Linked DNA regions of Homo sapiens: region 2 is reported to be linked to region 1. Evidence: microRNA targets listed by miRTarBase, many of them from high-throughput screens and not tested one by one. Region 1 holds a microRNA gene; the other region holds the end of a gene's coding sequence.
Evidence for each region. The annotated mature microRNA hsa-miR-30e-3p reads CUUUCAGUCGGAUGUUUACAGC and lies in region 1 at 1,594-1,615, opposite strand. An mRNA with a match to its seed (bases 2 to 7 or 8) in the 3' UTR can be bound and repressed. Matches are read on the target gene's strand: a 7mer-m8 pairs with bases 2 to 8, a 7mer-A1 pairs with bases 2 to 7 and ends in A, and an 8mer does both.

Region 1 (3,083 bases):
ACCAGCTGTGTAGGAAGCTAGGCAGCAGGGAGACACCTGCATTTTCTAGCCGTGACCTGTGATTGTTTAGTCTCCAGTTATCCCCAACTACAGCTGATCTAGTATTGAATATGATCTTTTTGTCAGACAAAAAGCAAACCCTTTAAAAACCCCTTCCAGAACCCAAAATATCTCTTGCCAAAAGCTGTGAGAGCAGGACAAGAGCTCCTCCTATGCTGCTTACTACATCCTCTTAAACTGTTTATGAACTAGACAGTATCTAGGACACTGAGAATCAAGTGGAGGCACCTAGGTTTGTGTTGTTAGGACAAGGCACAACTGTTCTCAAATCACTGGAATGGAAGAAGGCATATCTAAGGCTCTTCTGCATTATGAAGACTCATTCTGCCAATGGAGGTCAAGCCAGCAAGGAAATGATTATGCTTGGTTTAAAGAAATGGGTGAAAAGATAATGACATTTCAATGGGCAGGAACTTTCAACTCAATAGCTTTAGTGGGGCAGAAGTCAGGCCTCAACTACCTCCTACCTTCAAATAATCTTTACTTGCTTCTCTGAAGAACAAGCGAAACTCTCAAGTATCTTTGAGAAGTCAGGGCCTTGGACTCACAATTCAGTATTTCTGACTAGTTCCTTTTCCCAGCAGTGGGAGGTTGCCCCAAGTGGCAGAACAATGCTTTAATGACTGGATCAATCCAGAATGGGGCACTTGCTCAACTTTAGCAGTGGCCTCCCCAACTACAGGGCTTGCTCTTGGAATCTTTCCAGAAGCTGAGACTGACGAACAGTGCCAGAGAAGAGCAGCATCACATCCTAGGGCCATCTCTACAGTGTTGTGCAACCAGCCCTGACTGGAAAAAAGTACATTCGCTTTAGTAGCAAGAGTGAACTGCTGCCTCCTTCAGAAAGGGTGGGTTTTGGAGAGTAGGCGTTTTAAAGGACTTTAGGAGGTGCCAGCCAATTTGAAGCCTGGGAAAACTTCATGTCTACAGAGGATTAAAAATGCTATCTTAGAATTTCAGGCCAGCTTTCAGCAATCTCAACCTTTCAAAGGCCAGGCAGCAGCTGTCCCGAATACGATGCCAATCAATGCCTCGAACACCTACAAAGAACTAAATCCAAGCAACAAGAAGCTGTTTCAGCTAGACACACTTTAAAATCAGATGGATCATAGCATTTTGAGTCTGGCTAAGATGGAATAAGGAGCTGTATGACACCCCGAGAGACCCAGAAGCACTGAGGAATTTGGAGGAACTGACAGGATGTGACCCTTCTCTCCAGCCAGTGTATTCAGCAGGCAGCCCACAGAAAACAAGGAGTTAGCACAATGAGAGTGAGCAAGGCCTGATTTCATCACAGAGCTCACAATCTTGTTTTAAAGGGGGCTTCTGATAGACAAAAGGAGAAAACAATTTCAACAAGGAAAGCAGGTGTATGATACTCTTTGTTCTGAAGGAAGATAAATGGCCTGAGTTCTTGTTGTGACTTCTGAGAGAGGAGGGAAGGACCCCCAAGAGGAGGAATTGAGCCTGTGGGCACAAACCTGCAATGTTTCAAAGCCGGTGCGTAGCTGGGGACGACCGTGGCAGCCTGCCGCTGTAAACATCCGACTGAAAGCTCCTCTGAACACCTTACAGCTTCCAGTCAAGGATGTTTACAGTAGCAAAGACTGCCCAGAAAGAACGGAGACGCAGTGAGGCACACCCTACTCTAGTAAGGAGGTGACAGAGGGCTTGCTAATCCAAAGGCCCTCATGCAGGGTCAGAATTACAAATGTTCATTAGGATGCCCACTTCTCCTAGACTTTCTCTGACTGGTTATTAATACAGGCTGGGATGGGGAGAATGGCTGTCACTGAATGACTGCTTCTAAGGATAATATACTATGAAATAATTCATTAAAAATAAAGTTTTATATAACAAAGCAAGCAGAACAAGGCACAGCTTTGCTCCTGTGAGATTCTGCCACAATTTCCCAAGTGGCACCTAGTGAATCATGCAATCTGCATGCTTAAAACAATGAGCTCTAAAGGACAGAGGTCTATTACAATCACAATTAAGAGCTATATGCACCCAAGGTGCTGAAAAAACAACTAGTGTGACCTTTGGAGAGGGGCAGGCAGAAGAGACGGGAAGGCAGACGTTCATATTCTTTCTTGTGATTGCTTGCAAAACAGCTCAAGTGGTGGTTCTCAAATCTGACTGCACATTAAAAGCATCCAGGGAGTTTTAAAAGGTACTGATGCCTGGGCTCCATCATGAGATTCTGATTCAGCTGATGTGGGTTAGAGCCTGGGCGCTGATATTTTTAAAACCCCAACAGGTGATTCTAGTGTGCAGTCAGGGTACTATATAAAGATATAATGAACCACAATATAGAGGAAGAGAAAACATAGTCCATTCACTCCAAATGCCACTGTGCACATAGAGAAGCTGTTTCTTAAAAATCTAAAATCTATAACTTTCTGGGAATATTCTCCTATCCCAGATGAAGAGCTCTGATAGACTTCCTAAGATAACTTGAAATGAGCTTAACTTTACCATTTGTAACTAAAGTCTTTCATTTTCATTTTGTCTATTTTCACTGAAATACCACTTCGGAGGCACTGAGTTAAAAGTATCCAGAAATGAGTAACAGAAGGAGATGTTAAGAATGAATCTGGTCTAGAAACGAGAAGCAAAAGGAATAGCAAATGACTTGTGCTGAGAGAGAAGGAGCGTATCTGACACCAGTATACAAAGCGCTCTTCAGTCAGCAGCAACTGCAATCCCTTCACAGCTCACCTGACGCTTTGGAGGTTTCAGTTCATCTCTTGGAACAATATCGATGAGAAAATCAAACTGATCAAATTTTGTAATTGCCATGGCGATATCATTTCTCTGTAACAAAGAAGAGCGGTGTGAAAAATTAGCCTGGGGAGAAACTAGTTCACTTGGCTTTATACCCTCCAAGTAAGGTAAGACGACTTTTAAGCCAAACTAAACACCTACGGGCAAGTCTACAGCTGAAATAAGCACAGCCAAACTCATATACTTTAAATGATCAGACCTGGTGGGCAACCATCAACAAAAAAGAAAGAGATACA
Region 2 (3,083 bases), not on the chromosome of region 1:
CAGAATCTAAACACTTTACTCCTCTCAGGATGGCATATATCCCTATATGCCTTGTCAGCCACTGGTATAGAGGGCATAGCAGTTTGGAATCCAATAGCAACAACTTTTTGTGCAAAGTTTGGCATTTAGAATCATGCCTCATTAATTCAAAAACATTACTAAGGGCCTACCATGCATTAAGCACTATGTATACAGGTAAATTTTTAAAATATGGAGTTTACCAACAATAAAGAAAATAATTACAAAGCAGTGTGATCAGTGCGACAACATGGGAGGGGAAGAGTAAAGGACCAGAACAAAGGAGCATCTAATTTGACTGAAAAGGGCTTTAAAAAGCCTATGAAAACAGAATCACTGAAGCTGAGTCCTAAGAGGTAGGTAGGTATTCACTTGGTCACAAAGAAGGATGCAGAAGTAATGATGTGTGCAAGGCTACTGAGGTGGAAAACACACAAAGCGCATTTAGGGAAGAAGTGGAAGTACTTGCAATTGATCAGGATGCTCTAAAAAGAGGGATAGTCTGTGGTTCTAAAAACCGTATTAAAAATAATTTAAATCTTTATACTTAGAAAGCACAAAGGTATTTTCATAAGAAAACTTGCTAAAATGCTAAGTTAAATAAAAATCTTAGCTGTGTAATGATAAACAAGGGGGCTGGGGCAGGAACTGAGAAATTCCCTTTGCCACAGAGGCTCTATATCAGAATTTGTATGTTTACCAAAAGCAGCCTGGATTTTAACTGTTTGAGCAACACTGGACTAGAACATGATTACACAGGATGACTGCAGAGACATGGCTGGGAAGGTAGTCATTCTGTGTTGCCCTGATCTGCGGAAAATCCCAAAAAGAGAAAACTTACAAAGCAGAAAGGATTTTATATAACAGATGAGGACTTGACGTTTGGAAACACTGAGCTTAAAATTACTGTGGGATGTCTAATGAAGATATTTGATAGACAGTTAGAAACAAGGTTTAGAAAGCAAGAGATAAGTCAGGATACAAGTTACAGGTTTGAGACTCAGTCTGTTATTACAGGTGGTAAAAGAAGCCATAGTTATGAATGACATTGTATAAAATATGTAAAGTAAAAAAAAAAAAGAGAGAGAGAGAAAAAAATATAGTGAAGATCAATACCTAAAAGGTAGGCAGAAAGTGAGACAACACTTTGTGGGGAAATGAGAGAGACAGCGAAGATGAAACCAACATGTAGCACAGAGTCGCCTTTGATAGGAAGCAGGCAACCTCTTTTCCTCTAAAATGGGAAAATGAGTAAAGTTGGTAAATACAAGTTGACCTCTTCATAGTCTCAATTTTCTGTTCAATAGGAGAAAGAGCCATATGCTAGGGGAGGGGCAGAGGGCCTAAGGAAAGTAATGAAGTTTGGCTCAGCCACAGCGGGAAATGGGAGAGAGGCCACCCTAGTAACAAACATAAGGTTTACATTGAGGGCTTTTCTAAGGCTGAAGTGAGACACTTGTAGTGATTCTACTTTGAAGGACTACCCATCACAAAGAACTCAGCATCCCCGAAAAGGTAGATAATAAATAGGATTAATCTGAGGTTGAGGGCTTGCCAAAGGACTAGACTAAAAGACCAGGGAAAGAAGAATAACTGGTGAGATTAGTTCATATAGTATCCCATAAAGCTGAGGGTGGATAGGGAAGAAAGCCTGAAAGGGGCTGACAGTTTAGGAGGAAGGGGAGCAGTCAAGAAAAGGGGGTAAGAAGGAACTGAAGAATGTGGAATGAGCATAAAGGAGAGAAAAGTCAATAAAATAAGGAAGTGAAAAAACTGAAAAGAGGGCAGTTATCAGTTACTGAAATTTTACCAGAAAGAGAAACTCAAGGTGGTGACATTCAAAGTGCGGCCACGGGAGTAAGCTGCTGGAATGTAATAAAGTCACTGGGCAGAAGTCCAAGGTATCAGCAAGGTATCAGAAAGATCATCCAAAGATGACAACAGGAGTTGAGGTAGACAGAAAGACCATGAGCAAGATATCAAGTTAGGCTCTCTGGCCTTTAACACTCACCCCTATTATTAAAGGCAAAAAACATTAAAATTTCAGTATGTTATGAAAAGATGTGCTACAAAAACATATGAACTAATGGTAGACTAACCTAGCTTGGTTTTTATCTTCATTACTCACTTGAAAAGCCATGCATTGTCTTTTAAACAAAATAGAAAAATAATTTTTAAATTTTTATAAAATGCCTAAGGGAAGTAGAAATTTTAAATACAATTAGTAATACATGGCAAAATAATTAAACACAATGATTCCTTTGTGAGATCTTTCATTATTTACCTTATTGAAAATGGAATCTGAATATTAGTCATAATCTTTCATTTTGCCTACATTTATATCCATAGTATGTATTCAAAGCAGTGAAGTAACTTGACTTTAATTTCTGAAGCATGGCAAACTTCAAGGTAGTGAGATTTAAAAATAATCTAAAGATGATAAAAATGGTAAACTTGTGTTACATATACCACAATAAAAAAAAAAAGTAATAGAAAAAATCTTTGTAAAGCTAAATTGGGTTACTACTCATTATTAGTGACATAACATCTGTATTTTAAGGTGAGTTTGAACAACACTTTAGAAATTAAAGAATCATCCCTTCATAGGTTTACTAATATATAATGAAAAAGATGGTGATGTTGTTTTAGTAGGGTACCCAAGCTGGATATCTTTATGCAGTGTAATGTTCTCATATTCAGTATCAACAGGTCTTCTTTTTTGGAACTCTCTTTTCCATTTCATGGGTTTTGTTGTTTTTCTATTTGAAAAGGACTAGATGAACTTACTAGTTACAGCGATGATGAAAGAAGTTTAAAATTTGTTTTGCATTCGTTGTATTCCATTCTTGTTCTTTCAGGGGTCCTTCACACACAGATACATACTTTTTCAAGATTTTTTCTCCTACTTCTCGGAAATCCAAGGGTTCCTTGTATGTAGTGCAGCCCGCTCCAGACACACTAGTATCCACTTCATGATTTTCTGGTTGCTGATCAGCACAATACTTCGATCCCCAGTAACACATTTCTCCACTGTACATCATAGCCAGCAGATGAATGTCACTAAA

Region 2: the mRNA of RIMOC1 is a reported target of hsa-miR-30e-3p. Seed matches in the 3' UTR shown: 7mer-m8 at 2,060-2,066.

Annotation. Positions count from the first base shown.
Region 1 is chr1:40,752,945-40,756,027 of GRCh38, reverse strand. It overlaps MIR30E (microRNA 30e), which reads right to left and starts at 1,673; the gene lies at 1,582-1,673. It overlaps NFYC (nuclear transcription factor Y subunit gamma), which reads right to left. Exons shown (of 10, transcript NM_014223.5): 5 at 2,782-2,877.
Region 2 is chr5:41,917,021-41,920,103 of GRCh38, reverse strand. It overlaps RIMOC1 (RAB7A interacting MON1-CCZ1 complex subunit 1), which reads right to left. Exons shown (of 6, transcript NM_175921.6): 6 at 1-3,083. The coding sequence ends at 2,805. Among named protein-coding and RNA genes, the nearest start is that of FBXO4, 6.7 kb to the left of the region's middle. RefSeq lists an enhancer at 1,598-1,757.